Linked DNA regions of Homo sapiens: all the other regions are linked to region 3. Evidence: fine-mapped expression QTL. A gene starts in region 3. Each other region holds a variant in brackets. All regions are shown on one strand. Distances are between the middles of the regions. Region 1 holds the start of SLC46A2 (solute carrier family 46 member 2). Region 2 overlaps SNX30 (sorting nexin family member 30). Region 3 holds the start of SNX30 (sorting nexin family member 30). Region 4 has its middle 19 kb from the start of SLC46A2. Region 5 overlaps SNX30 (sorting nexin family member 30). Region 6 overlaps SNX30 (sorting nexin family member 30).

What was found.
Region 1: its variant is fine-mapped to the expression of SNX30 in whole blood (INTERVAL, PIP 0.99).
Region 2: its variant is fine-mapped to the expression of SNX30 in whole blood (INTERVAL, PIP 0.97).
Region 4: its variant is fine-mapped to the expression of SNX30 in whole blood (TOPMed, PIP above 0.99).
Region 5: its variant is fine-mapped to the expression of SNX30 in whole blood (TOPMed, PIP above 0.99). The same link has a PIP of 0.9 or more in blood mononuclear cells.
Region 6: its variant is fine-mapped to the expression of SNX30 in whole blood (INTERVAL, PIP above 0.99). The same link has a PIP of 0.9 or more in subcutaneous fat.

Annotation. Positions count from the first base shown.
Region 1 is chr9:112,888,764-112,892,851 of GRCh38, forward strand. SLC46A2 (solute carrier family 46 member 2) reads right to left here and starts at 2,113. Exons shown (of 4, transcript NM_033051.4): 1 at 790-2,113. The coding sequence starts at 1,918. The variant G/T (reference allele first, on the strand shown) is at 1,838.
Region 2 is chr9:112,856,086-112,860,173 of GRCh38, forward strand. The region is part of intron 7 of SNX30 (sorting nexin family member 30); the gene reads left to right. Among named protein-coding and RNA genes, the nearest start is that of SLC46A2, 33 kb to the right of the region's middle. The variant G/C (reference allele first, on the strand shown) is at 1,683.
Region 3 is chr9:112,748,889-112,752,976 of GRCh38, forward strand. It overlaps SNX30 (sorting nexin family member 30), which reads left to right and starts at 1,872. Exons shown (of 9, transcript NM_001012994.2): 1 at 1,872-2,269. The coding sequence starts at 2,114. It overlaps SNX30-DT (SNX30 divergent transcript), which reads right to left and starts at 1,677. Exons shown (of 1, transcript NR_186503.1): 1 at 1-1,677. RefSeq lists a silencer at 1,630-2,449 and enhancers at 1,719-2,640, 2,641-3,560.
Region 4 is chr9:112,907,932-112,912,019 of GRCh38, forward strand. No RefSeq gene overlaps it. Among named protein-coding and RNA genes, the nearest start is that of SLC46A2, 19 kb to the left of the region's middle. The variant C/A (reference allele first, on the strand shown) is at 2,425.
Region 5 is chr9:112,861,621-112,865,708 of GRCh38, forward strand. It overlaps SNX30 (sorting nexin family member 30), which reads left to right. Exons shown (of 9, transcript NM_001012994.2): 8 at 2,627-2,779. Among named protein-coding and RNA genes, the nearest start is that of SLC46A2, 27 kb to the right of the region's middle. The variant C/T (reference allele first, on the strand shown) is at 1,799.
Region 6 is chr9:112,872,546-112,876,633 of GRCh38, forward strand. SNX30 (sorting nexin family member 30) reads left to right here. Exons shown (of 9, transcript NM_001012994.2): 9 at 1-2,442. Among named protein-coding and RNA genes, the nearest start is that of SLC46A2, 16 kb to the right of the region's middle. The variant T/C (reference allele first, on the strand shown) is at 1,763.

The DNA of each region.
Region 1 (4,088 bases), 140 kb after region 3:
GGCATTTACCGAGTATTTTAATGCATTTTTAAAAAGCCCTTGCTTGACTCCAAATGATTTTAATTAAGGGATCTTTTCAGTAGAATTACTTGAAATTCCACTCCTCCACGTTTTTTTTTTTTTGTTTGTTTGTTTTTTTTTTTTTGAGACAGAGTCTTGCTCTATCACCCAGGCTAGAGTGCAGTGGCACAATCTCGGCTCACTACAACCGCTGCCTCTTGGGTTCAAGTGATTCTTGTGCCTCAGCTTCCTGAGTAGCTAGGACTACAGGTGTGCACCACCACACCTGGCTAATTTTTATGCTTTTGGTAGAGATGAGGTTTTGCTATATTGGCCAGGCTGGTCTTGAACTCCTGGCCTCAAGTGATCCTCCCACCTCCCGCCCAAAGTGCTGGGATTACAGGCGAGAGCCTCTGCGCTCGGCCTTTGAAATTCCATCCCTTTAAAATGGCAAGGGGGTGTGGGGGAAGAAACCCAATTCCATCTCCTCTGTTGAAGGCCATCCTGAAGCCTCCCCTACTGACTCCAGGTACCACTGACCACACCTCCTTGACTGCCCAGAACCATGAACACCACTCTGGTAACATTTCATTCTCAATATAGATAATTAATTAACAATACATTACAGATAAACTCAGGGGCATATAATCTTGTGTCCCTTGTGCCTCCTAGGTAGCAGGTTCAATCCCTGGTGCTGAGCTAGGACACCCAGACCATGGCATCCCTGGTGTCAGCCCCATGATGCAGAGGGCTAGCAATGTCCTGCCTCCTCAAGAATGACAGACTCACCAATATAGAACATGTATGTCTCTTTCACAAAAGCCAAGAGGAGGGCTCCTGACCCAAAGGAGACCATCCCAATCATGATCATGGTGGTGTCCCGAAAGCAGCGGGAGAAGACCAGGACACCCAGGAAGCTGGTGATGAAGATGGTGTACCCTGCAGCCATACCATAGCCCACCTGCACTTGGTTCCAACCGAGAGGCTCCCTCAGCACAAAAAGAGGGATCACGTCCACTGTGCCCACCACCGCCAGGTCATATATGATAGCACCCACAAAGAGCAAGGCAATGGTGGTTTTATGGGGTTTTGCTTTTCCAGGAGATGGAGGGTGCCCCACTGCATACTGTTGGTCCAACTGATCAGGATCCAGAGTGCGGTATGTGCCAACCGTGCCAGACACGGTATCCACGGCGGGGAGCTCCTGGCTGGGTTTGGCCACCGACTCAGGGACCTTTAGCACCAAAAGGCTGTAGAGCAGGGCAAACGAGGCACAGCTCACGCTGCAGGCCGTCAGTATCAGGCCCTGCCCAGAGTGCCCAGCCATCTGCTTGAAGAGATGCCCGGAAGCCATGCTCCCGCAGAACCCCGCCAAGCCCAGCATCAGGTCAATGAGGATGAGGCGCACAGAGCGGCGGCCCTCGGAGGAGCCCAGCGATCCCAGCGCCATGACCCCGGACCAGAAGGCGGAGAAGCCGCCGAATAGCCCGTTCAGCGCCGCCGCCCCGTACAGCACCTCCACTGGCCAGTCCAGCAGCACCTTGAGCAGCAGCCCGAGGCGGGAGAGCAGGAAGCCCAGCAGCGACATGCAGATGGAGATCTTTCGGTGGTAGCGGTCGCTGAGCCATCCCAGCCCGTAGGCGGACAGCAGGGGGGACAGGCCCACCACAAGGTTGTAGATAATGTAGAAATTGGAGATGGCTCTCTGCTGTTGGTCCTCTAGAGCCCCCCGGGGCGATGGGCTGGCACTGTGGTTGGAGGAGCCTCCGGTTCCGTAGGACGCCTTCACCACGAGGAGTAGCCCCGCATCGTAGAGGGAGGCAGCCACCTGGGACGA[G/T]GCCACCACGGGCTCAACCCAGGTCCTCGGGTGGAAGCGAGGCAGGTGGCCCCTCCGCGGGCAGGTGACCTCGGGGCTCATGTGACCTCTCTGATGGGGATCGAAGGGCTTTCTGGCTGCAGTGACAAGGATATGCTCCCAAATTCGGCTGCTACGGCTGCTCAGGTTTCAGTCCCGGAGCGCGAGTGTGCTCCGTGCGCCGGGAGCGCGAGTGTGCTCCGTGCGCCGGGAGCGCGCCGGCCAGTGGCGAGCAGAGCCAGGGCACGCAGCGCCTGTGACAGCAGCCCGCCCAGCAGCCGAGTGACCTCCCGAGTGACTCCTCCTCAGGCCAGAAAAGGCCGCGCTCCACCCTGCCCTCGCCACCTCAGGCAGAGTAGGACTGGCGACAGTCCAGGGAAGCCAGGCGCGGGGGAGCGCACCGCGAGTGCTGGCTCCTGGCGCCAGCACCCCCGGGGCCGACGGGTCACGCTGCTCCTGTGAGCGCGGCCGCCTGACGGGGCCGAATTTCCCCACAGCCAGGCGTGCGTGCCCGGACCTCCCGCGGATCTCTGCGGACCCCCCACCACCGGGGCAGGGGCTGGAAGGAAGCTCCCCAGGACTGGCTCAGGGAGCGTTTCCAAATTCTCCCATCCCAGGAAGGCAGGTTTGCGCGAGGGGTGGGACGCCTAGGATTCTGCCTAGGATAAGTATTGGGGTGTGAAGTTTTATTTATAGATTTAATGCAACAGGGGCCCATGTGCTATAGGCAGCTGGGTAGCACTTTGAGAGAAGTAAAAACTTGGGAGCCGCCAGGTCCAGGCTCTTCTCCAAGCCAAAGGCCTCTTAGAGAAGAGTCCTGTTTGGTACACCTGCATTGGTGGGCCTAGTGCCTGGGCCTTGTCTAGAAGGCTCCTGCCCCAAACCCCAGGGCCAAGGGAGAGACGGCAAGATCCTGCCAGCCCTAGATGTCCCCCTAGATGATAAAACTGGACTCTTGGGCAGGGGCTTGAGCCCACTGGAAGGGGCAGAGTCACCAGGGTCCTCATCTGAATCAAGTGCCCAGGTCCCTTTCTGCTTGTTAGTAGTCACTCTTCTTCTGTCTGTGGGCTCACTCCCCTGGGCTGGGCTGAGACCTCCACTTCCCAGGTGGCCTCGCTTCTTGTTTAGGTACATACTTCTGCAAAGAAAACCAGGGTGATGGATGGTGCAGGGGCCAAAATGTACCACAGAGCATGACCTGTTCCATGGTCAGCCCCAGGGATGGAGACTCAAAGCACACAGCCTTCCTGTCCCTCTACCCACAATCCACTATAGCTCTGGCAGCGTGGATGATCAGGAACCCAAAGACATGAAAGGGAGACGCAGGTATGCAGGGAGAGCTTAAAATGCCACATGGATAATATACTCATGTAGGGAGTAGGGACTGGATTCCAAATGATTTAGTGTATCTATGTGCTCTTTTGGTAGTGTTTAGGTGGGCTATAATCTCCTCCCCTGCCACCCTCAACCTCCAGCATGGCCCAGCCTCCTCGTGTCTAGGCCCAGACGACTCTGCCTTCTGCAAAGAGAAAGACACACCTAGTCTTGCCCTTCAAGATGTGCCCCATGGATCTGGCCCAGCAGCCCATTTCCTTCTTCCTCCCCCTCACCTAGGGTCACCTTGGGAGATACATGTTTCACCCAACCCAAGCCTGGCTCTCCCACTCCATTCTTAATTTTTCCAGAGGCTACAGCAAACAGTCCAAACACCTTGATCCTATGAGGGGTGGAGACTCCAGTGAATGAGTAGGTTATGGGGCCAGGTGGTATTCCACAATCAAATATGGCCATGAGAACAACCTGACCCAGATGGACCACTCTGGCCACTTGATCAAGGAGTCTGTGCATTCTAGGGCTCTAGACTGTAGGGGGCAGCCCTTGTCATCTCTGGGAGGGTCTGTGGTATTTCAGTTCTTCCCATTGTCTTGGGAAACCAGGGACATTTGAAGGGTCTCTGAGAGAGTCACATCAGATCTAGAACAGATCTAGTAGGAGCTGGGTTATTAGGATGCTAGTCAGCCCTAGGAACCCCCAGGCTTCTGAGTTCTCTGGCCTGGAAATGAACAAGACTCAGGGTAGTCAGTGTCTCTCCCAGTTTAGGCTACTGTGGGTTGGATTATATTCTCATCATGTCCCCACTTCTTGCTCCATCTCTGAATGCAGGCCCCAGGTGAGCTAGCACCTGGTCATCCTCTGCAGCCCAGGCTACCAGCAAGTAGAGCCCTGACCTTGC
Region 2 (4,088 bases), 110 kb after region 3:
GCTCCAAAAAGAACAAAGAAGGGATGCCAGGGAGAAGGCTTCACAGAATTCCTAGTTATCTTCAAAAAGTAAATAAAAAAAGCAGGGTGCTGTTTTAGGCCCTGACCCACGGGTAGCCTCATCCTGGGTGGGTGCCAGATGAAGAAGTTTAAATGGGTGGTGTCGGAGTGCAGATGAGGAGAGATGGGCCGTGTGGAGGGGACCTGGGGTGTCGGTGTTGGGGGGCTGGCCTGTGGTGTGTGTGGGGGGTGGGTGTGTGGTGTGTGTATGGGGAGGGCACGTGGCATGTAGGGAGGGCGTGTGGCGTGTAGGGAGGGCGTGTGGTGTGTGTGGGGTATGTAGTGTGTGGGGGTGGGTGTGGTGTTTTGGGGGAGCATGGGTGTGGAGGGGAGTGGGGCATTGGTGTGGGAAGTGTGGAGGTGTGTCGTGTGGAGGTGACTGGGATGGAAAGGTGCACAGAGCTGTTCCCCCTCTGGTTGAGAGAAGAGCAGAGGGAAAGTGGAAATTGGGCTCTCTGGACAAACCTCTTGAAGGCTGTAGACCTTGGACAGCTCTTAGAACCACCGGGATAGTGAATGTTCTAGAATGGGAAAGACGTGGTGGGTAGTGAAGTGAGAATCCCAATTGTAAACTGCCAGCAGGGAGACTTCTACATACAGAGCTAATGCAGACCGGAGAGTGGGGCCTCGTGTCTGTTGTTTCCAGACCCTTCTGGCAAGTGAGGACCCTCACCATGGGGCAGAAGACCAGGTGCCTCCAGCCAGAGCAGGCAGAACTCCCCCATCCCCTCAGCTGACTTAAGTCCCACCGCAGCCACCCTCTGCCAGTGCGGTGGTTTCCATGTGACAGATGGGGGCCCGGGGTCAGGGGAAGCGTGGAACTTAAGTGCCAAAGTCAACAAATGGTGGAGCCGGTATGGAGTCCAAGTGCATCTGGCTCCAAAACTGGTGCCTTTCCCCAGGGCGCGGGCCCCAGCAGCTGTGCTCCCTGAGGGGGCGCCCTGCCTTTCCCGAGGCAGGCACGGAGAGTGCGTGTGGCCTTCCCTGGGGCTTCACTCTCGTGTCATTGCGCAGGCAAGCTCGAGGATCTCTTGCTGTCAGCCTCTCTGCTCCTCATCTCATGCCCTCACCTCTCCCTCCCTCACTCCCCACTGACCATTCTCTGAAGTTTGTTTTTATCTATAATTAAAAAAGCATTCATTCAGAGAGCCACTGACTTTCTATTTGCCCAATTCCATGGCCTCTTTTCAGACTTGACCCTGTATCAGTGTTTTCTTACCTGTTTTCACCTCACAGCTCAAATAGACACTGAAAACGCAGTTGCTGGAAGCTGGAGGTGACCAGCCTGGGGGCTCTGGCTTCCCAGAGGGCAGAGGACCAATCTCTCTGCCACTCACACATTGCCAGTTAGGGAGCCCTGTCCCCTGCTCACTCAGCAGCGTGTGGCTGTCACTGGTCCTGGAGCCTGTCCTACAGCAGCCACGAGCTCCCCTTTCCTCCACACTTTGGGATTATATCTGTCTTGTGTAGTCTTTGGGGATTTTCCTAACCTACTATCATCATGAGAGCAGATAATGTGACATCTCCAACCCAGCTCCAAGAAGGAGACTTAAGTTGAGATTTCTGTTCTAGGGCCTGGAAATGCGTGGCACATGGAAGGAGCTCAGTAACGCATGCATGCAT[G/C]CATCCATCCATCCATCCATCCATCCAACCATCCATCCATCCATCTATCTATTTATTTATTGCTCTGTTGCCAGGCTGGAGTGCAGTGGCTCAATCTCGGCTCACTGAGTAATGCGTTTTTAAATGAATGTTGAGTGAATTTAAGTTACTGTCCCGTTCCCCAGCACACAGAAATGCACAGTCCCATCCACGTGACTCTTCTGTCATTGCACTAACAACCTATATTCTGTAATGGAAATTCTCATGAGAGATTGGGAACCAAGGTGAAAAATGCAATTTTGTCACCTCTGTATAAATTTTTATCTTTTGAGGTCTTATCTGGTGATATTTTTCCTTGGTGTCATGATAAGCAACACCCAACCATTAGCAGTGCTGTGCCATGTCAACATCCTTCAGACGCATGGTAGCACAACCGTAACAATACCTCAGTCACGAAAATTAAAACATTGAGATAAGAGGAAATGCTGAGGGTGGTGGCCCACACCTGTTATTATCTCAGCACTCTGGGAGGCCAAGACAGGAAGATCGCCTGAGCTCAGGAGTTCGAGACCAGCCTGGGCAAGGTAGCAAGACCTCGCCTCTACTCCAGATAAAAATATTAGCTGGGTGTGATGGTGTGCATCTGTAGTTACAGCTACTCGGGAGGCTGAGGCAGGAGGATCGCTTGAACTTGGGAGATTGAGGCTACAGTGAGCTGTGATTGTGCCACTGCACTCCAGCCTGGGAAACAGAGCAAGACCTGTCTCAAAAATAAATAAAAAATAAAAGTAAAAAGAATGCTTAGTGTTACTGGTCAGTGAATTGATAGTTACAAAGACACTATCCAAAAAATCAAAGGTGGAAGAATACATGCCTGAGCATGAGTTGCCAGCGCTCCCCTTCTTCAAGTTGGGGAACTTCACAAGCTGGTCACAGACAGCTCACCCCAGTTCCTCTTTTTAATTCTTCCATCCTCTTCTAACTCCTACCACCCCTGGGCTTCTCTGGCTCTGTTCTCTCTGATTCACCACCTCCTCTTTCTGTGCCCGCCTTTCTGCCTTCCCGAGTGACTTTTGCTGAGTCCTTTATTAACCCTACACATGCTGGCTTCTCTGTGAGTTCAAACCTTGGGCCCTGCCTCCCTCAGCCCCACCTTTCCCTCCATATATTTAAACAAGATTATACTGTGGTAAAATATACAGAATATAAAATTTGCCATCTTAACCATTTAAAAGTGTACAGCTTAGTCGTGTTAAGCACATTTACATTGTTGTGCAATCGATATCTGGAACTCTTTTCATCTTGCAGAACTGAAACTCTGACCCATTAAACAACTCTCCATTCCCCCTCCTGCCGGCCTCTAGAAACCCCTGTTCTACTTTCTGTCTCTATGACTTTGACCATTCTAGATACCTCGTATCTAGAATAATATAATATTTATCCTGTGACTGGCTTATTTCACTCAGTGTAATGTCCTTGGTTTATCCATGTTGTAATGTGTTAGAATTCCCTTCCTTTTTGAGGCTGAATAATATCCCATATATATGGGACATACACACACATACATACATACACATACATATACATACCACATTTTGTTTATCCATTCATCAGTGGACATCTGTGTTGCTTTCATCTTTGGGCTACTGTGAATAATGCTGCTATAAACATGTGTATACAAGTATCTCTGAGACCCTGCTTTCAATTTCTTTGGATATGTACTCAGAAGTGGAATCCAGCAGGATCATATAGTAGTTCTATTTTAAAATTTTTGAGGAATCTCCATACTGTTTTCCATAGCAGCTATACTGTTTTACAATCCACCAACAATGTACAAGGGTTCTAGTTTCCCTATGTTCTTACCAACGCTTATCTATTTTTTTGAGACAGAGTCTTTCTCTGTCGCCCAGGCTAGAGTGCAGTGGCGTGATCTTGGCTCACTGCAATCTCCGCCTCCCGGAGACCAGCCAGGCTGGTCTCGAACTCCTGACCTCAGGTGATCCACTTGCCTTGGCCTCCTGAAGTGCTGGGATTACAGGTGTGAGCCGCTGCACCTGGCCTATTTTCTGTTTTTGTTATTTTTTTTAATAGTAGCCATCCTGATGAGTGTGAGGTGCTATCTCACTGTGGCTTTGATTAGCATTTCACTAGTGATTATGATGTTGAGCATCTTTTCATGTCCTTGTTGACTGTTTATCTTCTTTATTTTTATTTTTTTGAGATGGAGTCTCGCTCTGTCGCCAGGCTGGAGTGCAGTGGCGTGATCTCGGCTCACTGCAACCTCCACCTCCCTGGATCAAGCAATTCTCCTGCCTCAGCCTCCTAAGTAGTTGAGACTACAGGAGCACACCACCATGCCCAGCTAATTTTATTGTATTTTCAGTACAGACAGGGTTTCACCGTGTTGGCCAGGGTGGTCTCGATCTC
Region 3 (4,088 bases):
ATAGTAAAGCATATTTAATTACAAAAACTCTTTATTATTTCATAAGAATAGTAGAGAAAATCTGACAGAAAGGGAAAGGAAGGTAGGTAATTAACATTTAGGGAGCACCTATTTTATGCCAGCACTTTGCTAGGACTATGACATAAAGAATGCTATATAACTCTCACAACCATCTCATAAGGTATTATTACCTGCTCTCCATTCTCCTCCTTTTTAGGTTAGGAACAGGTTCACTGAGGTTAGTAACTTGCTCATGGTCACCCACTTGTAGTGACAAAGCCGAATTCAAATGTGGTTCTTTTTTCACTTTCCCCTGGTGTACTAAAGAGAAAGCTTGTATAGAGTCTTAATCCATACGGATGTCCATTATATTTAAGGCAGCCTGGTTGTTAAAATAAGTAGCACCATTCAATAAGAAAAACCGATGTTATACATCTATAGATGTATATACTCATTTCTAGAAATACTCATTTCTAGTTATATTGTGCTATTCATTTTCATGCTAATTCAGAAGAACAGATAATAGGGTCTGTAGTAGTTGTAAGCAGCCCTTGAATGTGAAAGTGTTAACAATTTTAATCCAACTCCAAGAGGACCAGAACTTGGCATTCCTTAGATGCAGCATTTAAAATTGTTCCCAGTGCCCTTTGAATGCTACTTTTCCCAGCCAAGGCAGGCTTATGTGGAGGAGATAAAGATGATAGCTTGAGGACTAAGGGTCCAACCCTATATAAATTACATTGGGGGAAATAGGGGAAGGTCTTTGAAGCTCAGAGTCTCTGACTGATATTTTGGGTAGATTTCAACCCTCTGCATTCTCTTCTATTTGTTTCTAGAGAAAACTGTGGTAGAGGCCTTAGTGAATCCCAGAGTCAACATCTGTCATCACCTTTTAGCAGGTAAGGCTAGGCAAACCTTTGAGTTTGGAATGGGTAGGGAAAATGTGGTCCCTCACGATGAGCCTCCCTACCCATTACTTTGCTAGAGGGACTGAAAACCCTTTAAAGACTTGGCCTTGGAAACAGAAGATCTAGGGACAGGTAAGGTGGAAAAAGGAGGTGAACCTACACCCCAAAGGGCTGGAAGTAACACCTTGACTATTTGCACCACGCCAGCAAATAAAGCTGAGAATCAGCTCAGCCCAAGGCCTGGAAAGGAAGCACAAATGCATGAAGAATAACTTGAACCTCATGGTTCTTTCAAAAGTCTCTTCGGCCAAAGTGTGAGTTGAAGAGTCGCATATCATTTGAGACTCTCTACTCATGCTCGCTGTTCTGAGGTTTGACTTTACACAAATCCAGCTCAGCTGCAGAAGCAAGCCACAATGGGGACCTCAGAGTGAGCCTGAAGACTCCCCACACCGCCTCTTTGAAGTCCCTTCCAGGTTCCCCACCCGATGTCCTCTAGCTCATTTGAGCCTTGTCGCCCTTTATGCTATTCTTCCGATATGGGTCGTAATTCCGTCTATCTAGGGTTCTTCCTGCGCGTGCCTTAGAGGCCAGAAGACCCTGACTCACGTGCGTGTCCTCAAAGCCCCCAGCCCCAAGCGTGGCTGCTGGTGGGCGCATCAGTAAACGCGGGTGGAACGGAACAGGCTCCTCCAACCTCTTTTCCACCTCTGATTTCCGTTAGACATTTGCTCCGCACGGCGGCCTCCGCGAGGCAACGTTGGACACTGGGAGGACAGCCGCAGAGGCCCAGGGCGCACTTCCTGCCGGGCGGGGGCGGGGCCGCGCCTCCTCCCTCCCTCCCTCCGTCCTTCCTTCCCCACGTGCCCCTTCCCCGCCCTCCCCGCCCCCTCCCGGGCGGCCGCGGCGCCTCGGGGGCGGGGCCGGAGCGGGTGGGCGGTGTGGCTGTGTGGGCTGGGCGCCGCGGCCGTGCTGCCAGCGGACCCGCGGCGGGCTCGGGCGCGGAGCGGGGGCGCGCGGCGCGGAGCGGAGCGTCTGAGCGCCGGCAGAGACCAGCCGGCGGGTGGCGGCGGCCCCCAGCACGGCCGGTGCAAGGCCTCGGGTTAAGCGGCGGCCGAGCGGGGCTCGGCCCGGGGTGCTCGGGGAGCTCGCCGCGGCGGGCAGCAGGAGGAAGCGGCGGCGGCGCGTCCCGAGCGGTGCGCGCCATGGCGGGCGGGCCCCCCAAGGCCCTGCCGTCCACGGGGCCCCACTCCCTGCGCGACATGCCGCACCCGCTGGCCGGCTCCAGCAGCGAGGAGGCCGTGGGTGGTGACAGCACGCCCAGCCCGGACCTGCTGATGGCCCGCAGCTTCGGTGACAAGGTGGGGCGCCTGGGGCCGGGGAGTGGGAGGCTTATTTCGCTCCCCGTGGGGGGGATGATGGATCCGGAGCCTTCGTGGGCCTGGGGCCGCGCCCACCCTGCCGCCCCTTCCCGGGGGACGGGCGTGTCCTGGCCCCGGAGCCCTCGGCGAAGCGTCTCCTCTGCCGCCTCCGCGGGGTCGCAGCCGCAGAGGGACAGGCTTCGCTGCCTGTGACTGGTCGCAAGCACCGGTGACAGCTGGTGGGGAGGGGTCCAGCCTGCGTGTTGGAGCGGGAGGCGTGTGTTCAGGGCAGGGCGCCTGTGTCCTCGGATGGGGTTCCGAGTTCCTCCAGGTGCATCCCTGCAGGCTGAGCTGCTGCATAACTTGTAGCTCCTCCAGTTTCCGAGACTGCACAGAAAGCAGGAGTTCCTGGCTTTCCGTGCTGGGACCGGGCAGCCCTGGGCTTACAGCGAGAGTCTTCTTCCCCCTAGTCAGTCATGTGGGGAGTGATCTTTGTTTAGGTTTGCTGTTTGTCCTGAGGAGTCACCTGACTCAGACCCCAGCCGGCGGCGGGAGGAGAGCCTCGTTGTGGTTTTCTGTCTGGGGCTCCATTCACCTCCGACGGCCTACCACTCTGTTTAGGTTTGGCAGAGGCTGGTTTTGTGGTTGATGGAAAGAAAGCTCGCCCTTTGACCTTCTTTGTACGGAGGGAGGCTCCAGATTTTCTTAGAGCAGCACAACCCTCCTGCTGCTTGGAGAGACAGCAGAGTCCAGGCAGGGGTAAGGGACGACCTCCTCCCTACCCCCATGGCCATTTCAGCTGTGAAGGAGACTTGAGCAGTGATTGTATCCCCGCTCCTGCCGTCACTTAGTCACTAACTGCAGAAATTAGAATTGTTCTCAGGTCTTGTGATCAAGATTTTCTCTCCCTAGTAAAATACTAAATGAATTCCCCCTTGTCCCAATATTAATGGGAGCAGGGGACCTAACTTTCTTCTCCCGTTAGAGGGGACACCATGTGGTACAGTGAAAAAGGAGTATGAGAAAATATAACCTGCCCTCCTTGCAGTCAGAAGGTCACTGAGCACTTAAAATCACTAGAGAGTGCGACTTGATGTACCTTCTGCAGAGGGTTTGTGAAAGCAGGGAGTGAAGTTCCAAAGCATTAGGAACAGGAAAATTAAAAAAGCTAATGGAGGCCAGGTGCAGTGGCTCACACCTGTAATACCAGCACTTTGGGAGGCTGAAGTGGGATGATTGCTCTGAACCAAAAGTTTGAGACCAGCCTGGGCAACATATCGAGACCCCGTTTCCACATACGCACACAGCATGGTGGCATGCACCTGTAATCCAGGCTACTCAGGAGGCTGAGGCGGGAGGATTGCTTGAGCCTGGGAGTTCAAGGCTGCAGTGAGCTATGATTGCACCGCTGTACTCCAGCCTGGGCAAGAGAGTGAGACCCTGTCTCCAAAAAATGTTGAATAACTGAATAAATTTGCTTTCTTATCGACAAAAATTGGTCTTAAAATAGTGTAGGAACTGGGGGTTAAACCTCATTTCCTTCTCAGTTCTGTGTGGGACACTGAATTAATTATCTATTGCTGTGTAGCAAATTACCCCAAAACTTATCACCTGGAAATAGTGTCTGTGGGACAATCTGAGTGGTTCTGAATTAGGCCTTTCTTGAGGTTGCAGTCAAGTTGTTGGCTTGGGCTGCAGTCATCTGAAGGCTGGATTAGGGGAGGATCCACTTCTAAGCTCACTCACATGGCTGTTGGCAGGTCTTAGTTACTCTCCATAGGGCTGTTTGATGTGGCAACTGGTTTTTCCCCCCAGAGCA
Region 4 (4,088 bases), 160 kb after region 3:
GATATTGTGCCTATTGGAGAAAGGCTATTCCATCTATAGCAGAGAACTGTATAGTTGGGCCTCTGTATCCATGGGTTCCACATCCATGGATTCAATCAACCACCCATTGAATAAAAATATCCAGGAAAAATAACCATATAACCACAAAAATAATACAAATAAAAAACAATGCAGCACAACAACTATTCACGTAGCATTTACATTGTATTAGGTATTAAGTAATCTGGAGATGATTTAAAGCATACTGGAGGATTATACACAAATACTACATCATTTTATGTCAGGTGCTTGAGCATTCACAGATTCTGATATCTGTGGGATTCTGGGAACCAATCCTGCACCTATATGGAGGGATGACTGTACACTATTCAGAAAGCAGTTTCTCCACCATCCTTGTTGGGTCCTGGTGAATATGAAGCAAGTGAGCAAGAGACATCAGATGATCATGCAACCAGAACTATCCATTATGAGAAGTTTTCTTTCAGACTACCACATCATAAGTTTGGGTGGGCCCAGCAGCAATCTATAAGATGGAAGTGGTACACCAGTGGGATAGGGCACATGTAGGGTCAGAAGGAACAAGCAAGCCACAAAAGCAGGTGGTCCAGATCTCATGTTGTCCAGTGCTTCTCCTTCAGCACCAGCCACATGGGGAACCTCTTATGACAGCTGATGGAGGGGAAGAAAAGGTTGAAACTTGGTTCACAAATGGGTCAACTCGATATCTCAGTACAAACCAGAGGACAGTAGCTGCATCACAACCCTTACTTAGGTATTGATATGCTTTGGATGTTTGTCTCTTGCAAATCTCATATTGAAATGTGATTCACAGTATTGGAGGTAGGGCCTGGTGGGAGCTGATTGGATTATGGGAGTGGATCCCTCATGAGTAAGGTTTGGCACTATCCCCTTGGTGATAAGTGATATTTTGCCCAGTTAATCCACATGATGTCTGGTTGTTTGAAAGAGTTTGGGACCTCTGCCGTCTTTCTCTCTTGCTCCTTCTTGCCATGTGATATGCTGGCTCCCCCTTGACCTTCCACCATGATTGTAAGCTTCCTGAGGCGTCACCAGAAGCAGATGCCAGCACCATGCTTTCTGTACTGTGAGCCAATTAAACCTCTTTTCTTTATAAATTACCCAGTCTTAGATATTTCTTTATATCAACACAAAAACAGACGGACATAGGTGTGGTACTAAAAGCTAGCAGTGAGAAATCCTACCAATGGGGAAATCTCTAGCAGGTATGTCTGGTCATGTAAGTTCCCCAAGGTATGAATATACATGGTTTCACGAGTAGTAGCAAATGGTCTGCTGGGGGGTTTGGAAGGAGATAGATTGAAAGATCAGGGTTAAGGAGCTCTGAGGAGGAGGCATGTGGGCAAACTTATGGGAGGTGTGAAGATCTTTGTTTCACATGTGCATTAGCCCACTGGAGTATCTGTTATAGAAGAGGCATTATCCAACAAATACAGACCAAGTGACTCAGCCAGTTGACATCATTTGGCTTCTGTTATTAGATACCTGGGTGTTGGAATAATGAGTGCATTTATAGAGTAGCCACAGTGGTAGGGATGGAGACTCTGCATGGACCTGACAGCTGATCTGGCTGTTGCTTCTGCTCAAAGTCCAGCCTATCAGCCCCAGAGACCAGTACTGAAACCCTGATATAGCCTCATCCCCTAGGAAACTAAGCTGCCATTTGGTGGCTATTTGATTGCATTGGATCCCTTGCACAATAGAAGGAGTAGATACCATCCTGACCAGGCTCAACTTATATTCTGTGTATCGGGTTGTCTTTCCTGTTGTGGGGCCTCAGCCAGTACCATGATCTGAGACCGAACGGCGTGTTGGATAACAGCAAAATATCAGAGCTAAGCATTCTACTTCACAGCAAAAAAGTATATAGTGGACACCTGGCCATGGGACCCACTTCTTCTATCTCAAACTTTGTCACCCAGAAGCCACCCTATTAGAGTGGCAGAATGGCCTTTATGAAACCAGTCAAGATCTCAATTTAGAATTAACACCCTATAAGGATGGGGTACCATCCCCCAGGAGACCCTAAATCAATAACCATTGCATGGTGCTGTTTTCTGTCTCCAAAAGGTAGACTACATGAGCCTGGAAACTGGGGGATGGAAGTAGGCCTGGCCCCACTTCTCATCTCTCTCAGTGATCTTGGGAAATTTGTGCTTTCCATTCCTGCAGCTTTAGCACTAAAAGGGGCTGCCTCCACCAGGGGAGACAGTAAGAATCCCACTGCAATTTAAGCTATGGCTGTCGCTGGGGCGCTTCCAGTTCCATGTGTCAAAAGAACAGCAGTAAGAAAGGGAATGCAGGGGCAATTAAGGTCACTGCTACTCAAGGGGGACAGGAAGAATATGTTTGGACCCCACCATGAAGCACATCTTGGTGTTCCCA[C/A]ACCCAGTGGTAACGGTAGTTGGAGAATTGGAGCAGCCACAGTCTGAGAAAGGCATAGTAAATCAAGGCTCAGACACTTAGGGATGAATGGTTTGGGTCACCTCACCAGGTAAGCCGCCTAGACCAGCAGAGGTACTAGCCAAAAATGAGGGGAAGACAGGATTGTAAATGGTGGAGGGGATGATGAATATCATTTATGGTGTCAGGATAGCTGCGGCAGTAGAGGCTATAGTTCATCCTACTAATCTTTCTCTTGTAAGTTTCCCAGCAAACAAGCCAACCAGAATTACGGGAAAGTCGTTCCCAAAGGGATATCAGAGAAATATGAGAGGTGAGCTGCAGTGGAAATTGTGGTATTCACTCATGTGCCCCCTTCAGGGCCAATGTACCTAATTCTCAACTTCTGGTAATATCATACTGCCAGCCCACAGCTGAGAATATGAGAATCTCCCTGGACTGGAAACCTGTAGGAAATATTGAGAAAACTTTGAATTTCCATAAACTGTAGGATAGGAGTTTAAACCAGTGTTCTCTAGAACTTGGGAGAGAACCCACCTGATGACTGGATTATACCAGTGCAGAATTGATCTGCCTGGGAAGTTTGAAAATGGAGATTGACTTCAAATTTCTGGGCTTGAAAAGAGAATATGAGTATTCAAAGCAAAAGTTTGTAACACTTGAGCATATCTGATGAAAACTATATTGTCCTGGTGAGGGCTGCAAGGTTGAAAGGGCAGTGATCCCAGGTCTGGATAATGTAGCCAATATTTCTTTGGTGATTTCTGAGGTCAGAATTGTCTCCTGGGAGAAAAACGAGATACAGACTATCAAGAAGCTGATACAAATCAGGAATATGAAGTTCCTTTCAAGTGCTGCTGGGCCTTATGTTCATACTAACGCTCTGTTCTCTGCTAATGATTTTATAGCAGCTGCTTCCTAGCTATTCCTCTTCGAAAACACTGTGGGTGGGAGTAAATGGCATGCCTGAAGTGTCTATGGAAAATAGCCTGTTAATGGGGATATTATCTGTCCCTGAGCTCAGAGGTGCAAAAGAGACAGAGAAGACCTTTCTTTGCATCTCCTGGGGTGACAGGGAGGCATCAAAGTCATATCTTATAGGCTTTATCCTCTTGCATCAAAATAACAAGATCTCATACTCAGGAGAGAACTCGTTTGGAATGCTGTGTCCTTGAGGTTTCTTGGAGTGGTCATTTCTGACTGTGTGACGCTTTTGACAACTATGGATGGAGGGTGTATCTGTCTTGTGACCAGCCGCCCTCTTGATGTCCACATTGGAGTATTTCCAGAAGAAAACCTGGGCAATGACACCTTCCTTCCAGGCCAGTTTTGAACCCAGCTTATGCTCTGTAAAGGACTTTATGACATTGCTCTTATTCCCATTCTTCACACAGAAATATGCTTGATGTTTGAACCAGTCAGGTATTTGAAATATGTTTGAGATGTGACTTAATGTGACCAGAAAAGTCTAAATGTATTTAGGAAAGAGGCCACAGAATTGCTAAGTCTAATTTTGTCATGCAAATCATGTGCACACAAAACTTTTTAATGCAATATTTGAGAAAACACTACCCTTAGGTAACTGGCATGACTTCATCTGCTGTGGTATGTACAAATTCTTTCATTCGTTCCCTCATTTAATGAGG
Region 5 (4,088 bases), 110 kb after region 3:
GGGACGAGCCTCAGGTTCCTCATCCCCTGCCACCCTCTGCCAGTCTTGCGAGCTGCAGTTCCCTCTCCGTGCCGCTGTGGGCCCTGTGGCCTGTGCACAATTCCTGCGGTGGGTCCTGGTGTCTTCTCTCCTCTGTCCCTTGTGTGTACCGCCACTCTGGAGTGCCTTCCAAGTGGTCAAACATCTCACATCTGTCATCTTTAAAGAGCCGCCTCAGTGCTGTTTCCTCCATGAGGCCCGATCTTCCCAGGTTGGCCGCCCCCTCCATCCTCCTCAGCGTGCTTATCACGGGGGCTGCAGGGGAAGCGACAACACTTACGATATCTTGCCTCAGTGTCTAGGCATGTTCCTGTTTCTTCCCAACTAGACTGTAGGTTACGGGAGACAAGATTTGTCTGTTGAGACCCAAGCACTTTTGTATTCCTCAGTGCCAAGCACAGAATGTGTTGTGAAACTGAGAAGCCAAATATTTCCCAGACCGAGGCTCAGGCAGTCCTAAAACCCACAGCCGTGGTTTAGACCCTGATTTTTCTGGGTCAGTCAGAGTTCCCATCTCCAGAACACACCTGGGAATCTTTAAACCTGGGAATCTTTCCTCTGTGAACAGTCCTGATTCAGAGACCCTGGCTGCCCTCCTCTCCACGTGTCCTGGTGAGGTTCTCTTTCCAGGGCTTTCCATTTTCTCCTCACAGCAGAAGTTTCGTTAAGCAAACAGGAAGTTGCTCATAGGCACCCTCACCCCAATGCAAGTGTGAGCAGTGGCCAGGAGACGGGTAAGGGAACTGGCCTGTGCCTGTGGGGAGGTGAGGCCAGCCAGAGACACTGGCTCGCTGGGCATCTTTCCATTGAGGCTGATTCCTGGAGTGACTCTGGAGAGGCAAGACTGGGATACTCTGGTTTTTATTTCAGTTTTTCCTGAGGTAACCAATAGTAATGGGTGGTCTTGGGAGGAGGCAAAAGAGACTTAAATCATGGCATCAGAAGAAAAAGTCAGTCTCTGACCTGGTATGGTGGCTCAAACCTGTAATTCCAGTGCTTTGGGGGACCGAGGTGGGAGGATCACTGGAGGCCAGGAGTTCGAGACCAGCCTGGACAACATAGCGCCACCACATCCTACTTATTGTAGAGATGGGGGTCTTACTATGTTGCCCAGGCTGGTCTCAAATTCCTGACCTCCAGTGATCTTCTGCCTTGGCCTCCCAAAGTGCTGGGAGGCATGAACCACTGCACTCAGCCCAGTATTTTTTTTTTCCCTCTTCCAGAAGCTTATGTGCTTTGAAGAAGGCCTCTTTCCCCATCTTAACAGAAAAATTCCTTGCTTTTAAATTTCCAGAGTGTCTAGTTATCTCTCTCTCCAGCTCATCCTGGTTTCACCCATGTCTAGTTCCCGTGTCAGGCACATTCAAATTCACTTGCCTTGGCCATGTCTCTTCCCTGACTCCTGTGTTCTACAACCATCTCCACGTGGTCTGTGGAGAAGATGGCTGAGTACCCTGAAGGTGTCCAGCTCCCTCAGGCCTGTCTTTCTCATTGGCATCATTCTGGGTCAGCTCCTTGTCCACGAGGCTTGGGTATAAACCTCCTCGATTGGTGGAAGTGGACTCCCAGGGGTGAGCCATGGCTTGGAGACAGTTTGGTTCATGGGCCCCAGCACACCAAACATAAAAGGCCTCACTTGTGGTTGGGATACATTTGGCAGGTCGGGGGTTTGACCTGGCTTTGGGCCTGTCGGCTCCCTGGCCGCCATCAGGGCTCAGTGAAGTGCTTGAGTTAGGAGAGAGAAGCCAGCTTTGGGAAG[C/T]GCTGCAGCCACAAAGCCCAAACTCCAGCTGCACAGGATGGTGAAATTCACCAAAGCAAAGTGAAAGTTGTGAAACTTCAAGTGACATAGTTCCCTTTTGAGAAAGTCTTCTAAACCTCTTTAAGAAAAACTTGAAATAGCCTGCTGTATATTTCTTCTTTGAATTTCAAATTTTTTTGACATGCATAAGTAACTTTCCTCCTGTTTTCTCAGACTTCTCTAACTCTCCATTTAAAAGTATCTGCTATTGGGAAAAGCATAAACAAGCCTCCAGTTTATTTATGATGTGGGGTTCAGAGGAGGCAGCTGGCCAGTAGTTGTCTTATTGCAATTCTCTGATTAATGAGGAAAGGCATCATCAAATGTCACAGCAATGGAATAGTTCATGTGATCTGGGAGAACCTACCTCTTCTCTAGTTCCAATATGGGACACAGGAGAATAGCAGGGCAATACAAATGCTGTATATTTGCAAAGTCTGCACACACTTTCAAGTGTGGATGAGTAAATCCTAAAAGGAACCAAAGACATATGAGTCTGAATTGCAATGTTTCTTCTTCCTGTGTGTAAATGGGGGTGTTTCCCCCACGAGTCTCTGTTGTGTTTGGATGGGTTTGAAGATCTGGGTTAGGAGAGCCCCTTTTCAGAGCTCCTCCTTAGACCTGAAAACCCAAGGTTTTGCTTTCAAATAAATGCCTCCAGAGGAGGGAGCGTGTTGATAGCATTTTAATGTAGGGCTTTGGCCTTTGACAAATGTGTGCTCAGAGGAGCTCAAGGCAAGAGATGCCAGTTTTGTGTGCAGGGCACCCATGTGTGCCTCCCTTTTCCAGGTACCGGCGGACGTCGAGAAATGTCAGGATCGGATGGAGTGTTTCAATGCTGACCTGAAAGCTGACATGGAGAGGTGGCAGAACAACAAGAGGCAGGACTTCCGGCAGCTACTCATGGGGATGGCTGACAAGAACATCCAGTATTATGAGAAGGTAATGAGTGTGCCCAACAAGACTGGTTTCTAATGGCCAGAGCCTTTCACATGGGCCTACCAGAAATCCACAAGCTGGGAATCCTGCTAGTCTCATCTCCTTCCCTTATTTTAGCTGCTTAGTCTTGGCTCCCGCTTCATGCCCTTGCCCAACCATGTGGCTGCAGTGCTGGGTTTGGCAGCAGAGGGGGTGCTCACAGGGGTTTCCCTTGCACATGCTGCTGGGGAAGCAGCCCATTCGTCTTCCATGCTTTCTGGGCCTGGCACTGGTTGCTTCCCAGAGCCAGTCAGACCTTCAGCACAGTGATGCTGCCACCGAATGGAGGCTTTGGGGTTACTTTACTCTGTGTTGGGGTTCTGTACACAGGGTCCCTTCAGTTTGGTTGTGCAGTGAACCCCTTTGGTCATCTGGTGAAGCCTATAGACCCCTCACCAAAATACTGTGCATTTGTTTTTTAAATAGACTTCAAAATATTGATTTTAAATACGTAAAATAAAGGGATGTAGGATTACAAAGGAAAGCAATTCTATTAAAAACTTTTACTCATGGATCCCCTTGACCAGGTTAAGCAGCGCACGCACATGCGCGTGCACACACACACACACCCACACACCCCACTACCACCACCACACCCCACACACACACTACACACACACCACACCCCCCCACACTACACACACACCACACATACACCACACACCCCCCATACTACATGCACACCACACACCCCCTACACATACACCCCACATACACACCCCACACACAACCCCCCCACACACGACACCCACACACCACACCCACATACCTCACACAACCCTCACACACAACCCCCACACACACCATACACACACCACACACACATAGAGATGACTCTTATCAGGCTACAGCCCAGTCCCCTCAATCAAGGTTTGCTTGATTCGTATGTCCAGCAAACCAGTGCGAGGCCAGGTGCAGTGGCTCACGCCCGTAATCCCAGCACTTGAAGAGTCCGAGGTGGGAGGATCACTTGAGCCCAGCTCAAGACCAGCCTAGGCAATGTAGTGGGACTGTCGTTACAAAAGATACAAAATGAGCCAGGTGTGGTGGCGTGTGCCTATAGTTCCAGCTACTCGGGAGGCTGTGGCAGGAGGATGGCTTGAGCCAGGAGTTCAAGGCTACAGTGAGTCATGATTGTGCACTACTGTACTCCAACCTGGGTAACAGAGTTTTTTGATCCTGTCACGCCATATATATATATATATATATATATATATATATATATATGTATGTATGTATGCACACACACACACACGTATACACACATATATAT
Region 6 (4,088 bases), 120 kb after region 3:
TCTGGCCAGATGGGTTGCTGGCTGCACTGAGGGTGATTCTTCTCAGAAGATGGGCTGCCTGTGGTCAGGACAGGGCATACCAGTCTGGACTCCACCTTCCCAGACACCTACTTTAAGGACCTGTGGAAACTGGGTGATCCAATTATAGGGCTGGGGCAACCCTGCTTTGGCCACCCTCATTTACAAACTTAGGTTGGGAGCTTGGGTTTCCTGTCTCACTTCCAAAAGCCTTCAAGATGGCAGCAGATGGACACACCCTCTCATTTCTTGTGTCTTGTCTGTCAGATGGCAGGAGGCCTGTATCAGTAAATTTGAGGAAAATGTTCTCTCCTGGGCCAGCCTCACAGCTTGCGTTGGGTGTGTTGGAATTGTTCTCTTCGGCCTTGTTCTGCCTTGTGATCTTTTCAATTCAGTGAATAAACCAGGAATCCATTTTTTCACCAACCCACCCTGTAGATTGTCAGCTTTTTGTTTGAGAGATGCCTGGTCTCACAGTTACATGTATCAGAGTGTGTGTAAGTTGTCTGTGTTAGAAAGGTTGGGGTGGGGGCTTTGTTGCAGGGGATTAGACTGTTCTTTCTTCATCATAATTTGAGATACATCCTGAGTATGACTGTCTAACCCTTTCTGTGTGGCAGAAAAATATGTTTTCCAGGTAGTTTTTACTACTACAGAGAGTCTGTAAATAAGTGCTTTAAAAAAATAACAAACCAATAAGATATTTGTCTCCTATATAAACATTCTGTGTATTTAGCACTTGAAAATCAACAAATCCAGAATTTAAAAAAATGCCACAGACTTTTCAAAGCCCAACTCTACTTTTTTGAGAATTTGTCCGTACCTACTAATATGCCTTATTCTTCTTCACCTAGTGTTTTAAAAGTCCTGGGTAGAAAGAGTTTTAGAAATGTAATCAGTTGTTCAGCTTCAATAATATAGAGATCTAACATAGTCAGTCCTCAGGCCCCCTAAAGAAACAAGCAAGAAAGTGAGGGCCATCACTAGGGTTGGCTTTGGGGAGGGGAAAACTAAGGACTGCTTTTGCCAAATGATATTTTTGATAATGTAAGGAAACACAGGGACCACAAAACCTTTTTTTTTTTTTTAAGTGTGAAAGATTAGTGCCTTTTGGCATACTTTTGATTTTAGAGGATATAGTATCGGCATTGACAAATCACGTAGAAACAAAGAATGCTATAGATGACAACAGTATTAAATGTTACTCCTGATTCTGCAGAACAGCTTTTGAAGATACTGGGGGGTATCTTCAAGCCTCAGAGCAGCTTGTTTCAGATAGAAATTCTCTATGGGTTGAAATGCCAAAAACAGAAAACATGATGTTGACTCATGTAATTTAGTCCATTTTAGCAGAGCCTTTAGTGTTAACACCAGTGGCGAGGAGCATTGCATATTCTCTGTCAGCAGCAGCACTCCCACACCAGGTGGTTCTGGGCTCTCTGTAGGCTGGTCCTAGTAGGTGACACCCAGCAACACCCCTGTTGGACAGGATTGATTGTTCGCAGTCTTAGACCAACACTTCAGTCAGAAATGTTACTGGGAGGAGGAAAGGAAAATCACTTTTTTTCCTCCATGTGGAAATGAGGAGAGAGGAAAGTGGATTGCAAACCAAAATGTGAGTCAGTGTGATGAAGCAGTGGCTCTGTCATCTCGGCCTTTATCCAATAACAAACCAGCATCTCTTAAAGGCGCTTTTGGCCTAGACACCCCTGAAGTTTGGATGAAGTCTGGTGGATTCCCTGTC[T/C]GTTGTATTTCTGTGTGCCTGTTCCCTTCATTGCTGTGAGTTGGGAGTGCATTGAGAGATGATGTCCATCTGATATATTCCTGTGAAATAAACTGCCAGCAAACTTTCTAACTTGTATTTTAACTGTTAAAGAAGAGATTAAAAACTTCGGCTTTGGACATGTCCACATTATGGACTGTCATCTTATTTTTAAAAGTCATTCTTTACGTTTAAAATTTTAAAATAAAAACCTTCTGAGGTATTGATGTAGTCCACCGTGTAAATGTTACCTTCTCTCCATGCTGCCATTATGCCAAAACAAAAGCTGTGATAAAAAAAGTGCTTGAGAGAGTGTGTTGATAAGAAAGTGATTTATTTACAGATGGAAGTCTTTGTTTCATGAAGCTACCAAACTTTAAAAAGAATGTCACCCTTTTTTTTGTTTGTTATGGAAACCAGAGATTGTAAAATGGAAAAAGAATCGTTTTTTTGTTGACTTTTTGATGCTGGCACGAGGTTTTTGTCCACTTTTTTCATATATCTGTGTATAAAAAAATTGTTGTTTACTATGGAATTAGTATTACATTTTGAGGTAAACAAAAGAATTTGTATTGCTTGATAAATATTAGCTTGTAAATTTAAAGTTTCTTTACTTCAATTAACTTAAAGGACCAATAAACCCATAAAAGATGCTTTCTTTATCTGGAGTCATGTCCTCATTTGTACCTTTTTGTAAGGCAGAAAAACATGTGTGCCTATTTTTCTGTTTTCTTATTTTCTCTTTACAAGTTTTCAGTTTGCCTGTAAGAATCAAGACATACAGAGCGACAGGAAAAAATATATATAATTGAACTATTTTTATTCTTCTTCACTTCTTTATAGGCCCAGTTTACCCTCAATTTACCCTCTTCTACATCTTCCACATCTGCACCAATCTGGGGAGATGAAGAAACTTCCTAGTGTAGTAGCCATCATGACTGGCAGGCAGGCCGACAGCCAGCTGAGGTATTTACTACATGAAAGATTTCCTGTGTTATCCCATAGCAAAGCACAACATTATATTCTGCATCAGGGCCAGTTAAGTTGACCTGATGATGGTAATGCATTGAACTTGAGTATATTTAAAATAGTGCTCAACTTGACTTACTTTAAGACTGCAGTCATACAAAATAAGGCAGCAAGCTGAATAAGACGTGGATCATGGATCAAATCTCAGCTTTTCCACTTACTAGCTATGTGGCTTTAGGCAAGTCACACTTGGCTGAATATTTAGTATTACGATCTTTGAGATGAAAACAAGACTTCCACATGGGGTTGTCGATAGGACTAGCAATATGGTATGCAAAGCACTTAAATGTCAGGCAGCTTCTCACTGTGATAGCCCCTTTCTAAAGACTTCCTAATTTAAATATTAAGGCTATTAGGATATTATCCTTAAGGATATGGCCAATTTAAATATTAAGGATAACAATCCTTCATGTATGCTTTGCCAGTTTTTTTGTTTAACAGGATATTCTTTTTTTTTTCTTTTGCTTTGTCACCCAGGCTGAAGTGCAGTGGCATGATCTCAGCTCACTGCAACCTCTGCCTTCCAGGCCCAAGCAGTCCCCCCGCCTCAGTCTCCCGAGTAGCTGGTGCTACAGGTACGTGCCACCATGCCCGGCTAATTTTTTTATTTTTCGCAGAGACGGGGTTTTGCCATGTTGCCCAGGCTGGTATTGAACTCCTGAGCTCAAGCAATTCGCTTGCCTTGGCCTCCCAAAGTGCTGGGATTACAGGCATAAGCCACTGTGCCTGGCCCTGTTTTCTTTTTAACAAGGTGATGGAAATAAAATACTGAAGGACGGTGTCAGATTGAAGGCCTGAAGAATGGGGAGGAATAAATTCCAAAAGCCATGGCAAGAAGTGATAAAGGGAGGTGAAAATAGCCGATTTAAGAGATTCTTGGGGGGAGGAGAATGGACCGGAGATGACTGGAAGATTGCCAGCCTGGGATTTGGAGGCGATGCCATTAGCTAAAATTAGGAGAGAAAGACAGAATATGGAGGCTGGGCGTGGTGGCTCATTCCTGTAATCCCAGCACTTTGGGAGGCCACAGCAGGAGATCACTTGAGCCCAAGAGTTAAAGACCAGCCTGAGCAACGTAGACCCCGTCTCTACAAAAATTAAAAATCAAAAAAGATGGAATGAGCTTAGGTGGTGGGGTGTGAGAAGGAGAACTTGGTTTCGCTTTAGGTTTGAGGAAATCCAGGTGGAGATGTTGACTTGGCTGTTGGAAATGAAGTTCTGGAGTCCATGGGGGTGGACTAGATTGCATGGGAAGAGAACCAAGGACAGGACCTTGGAG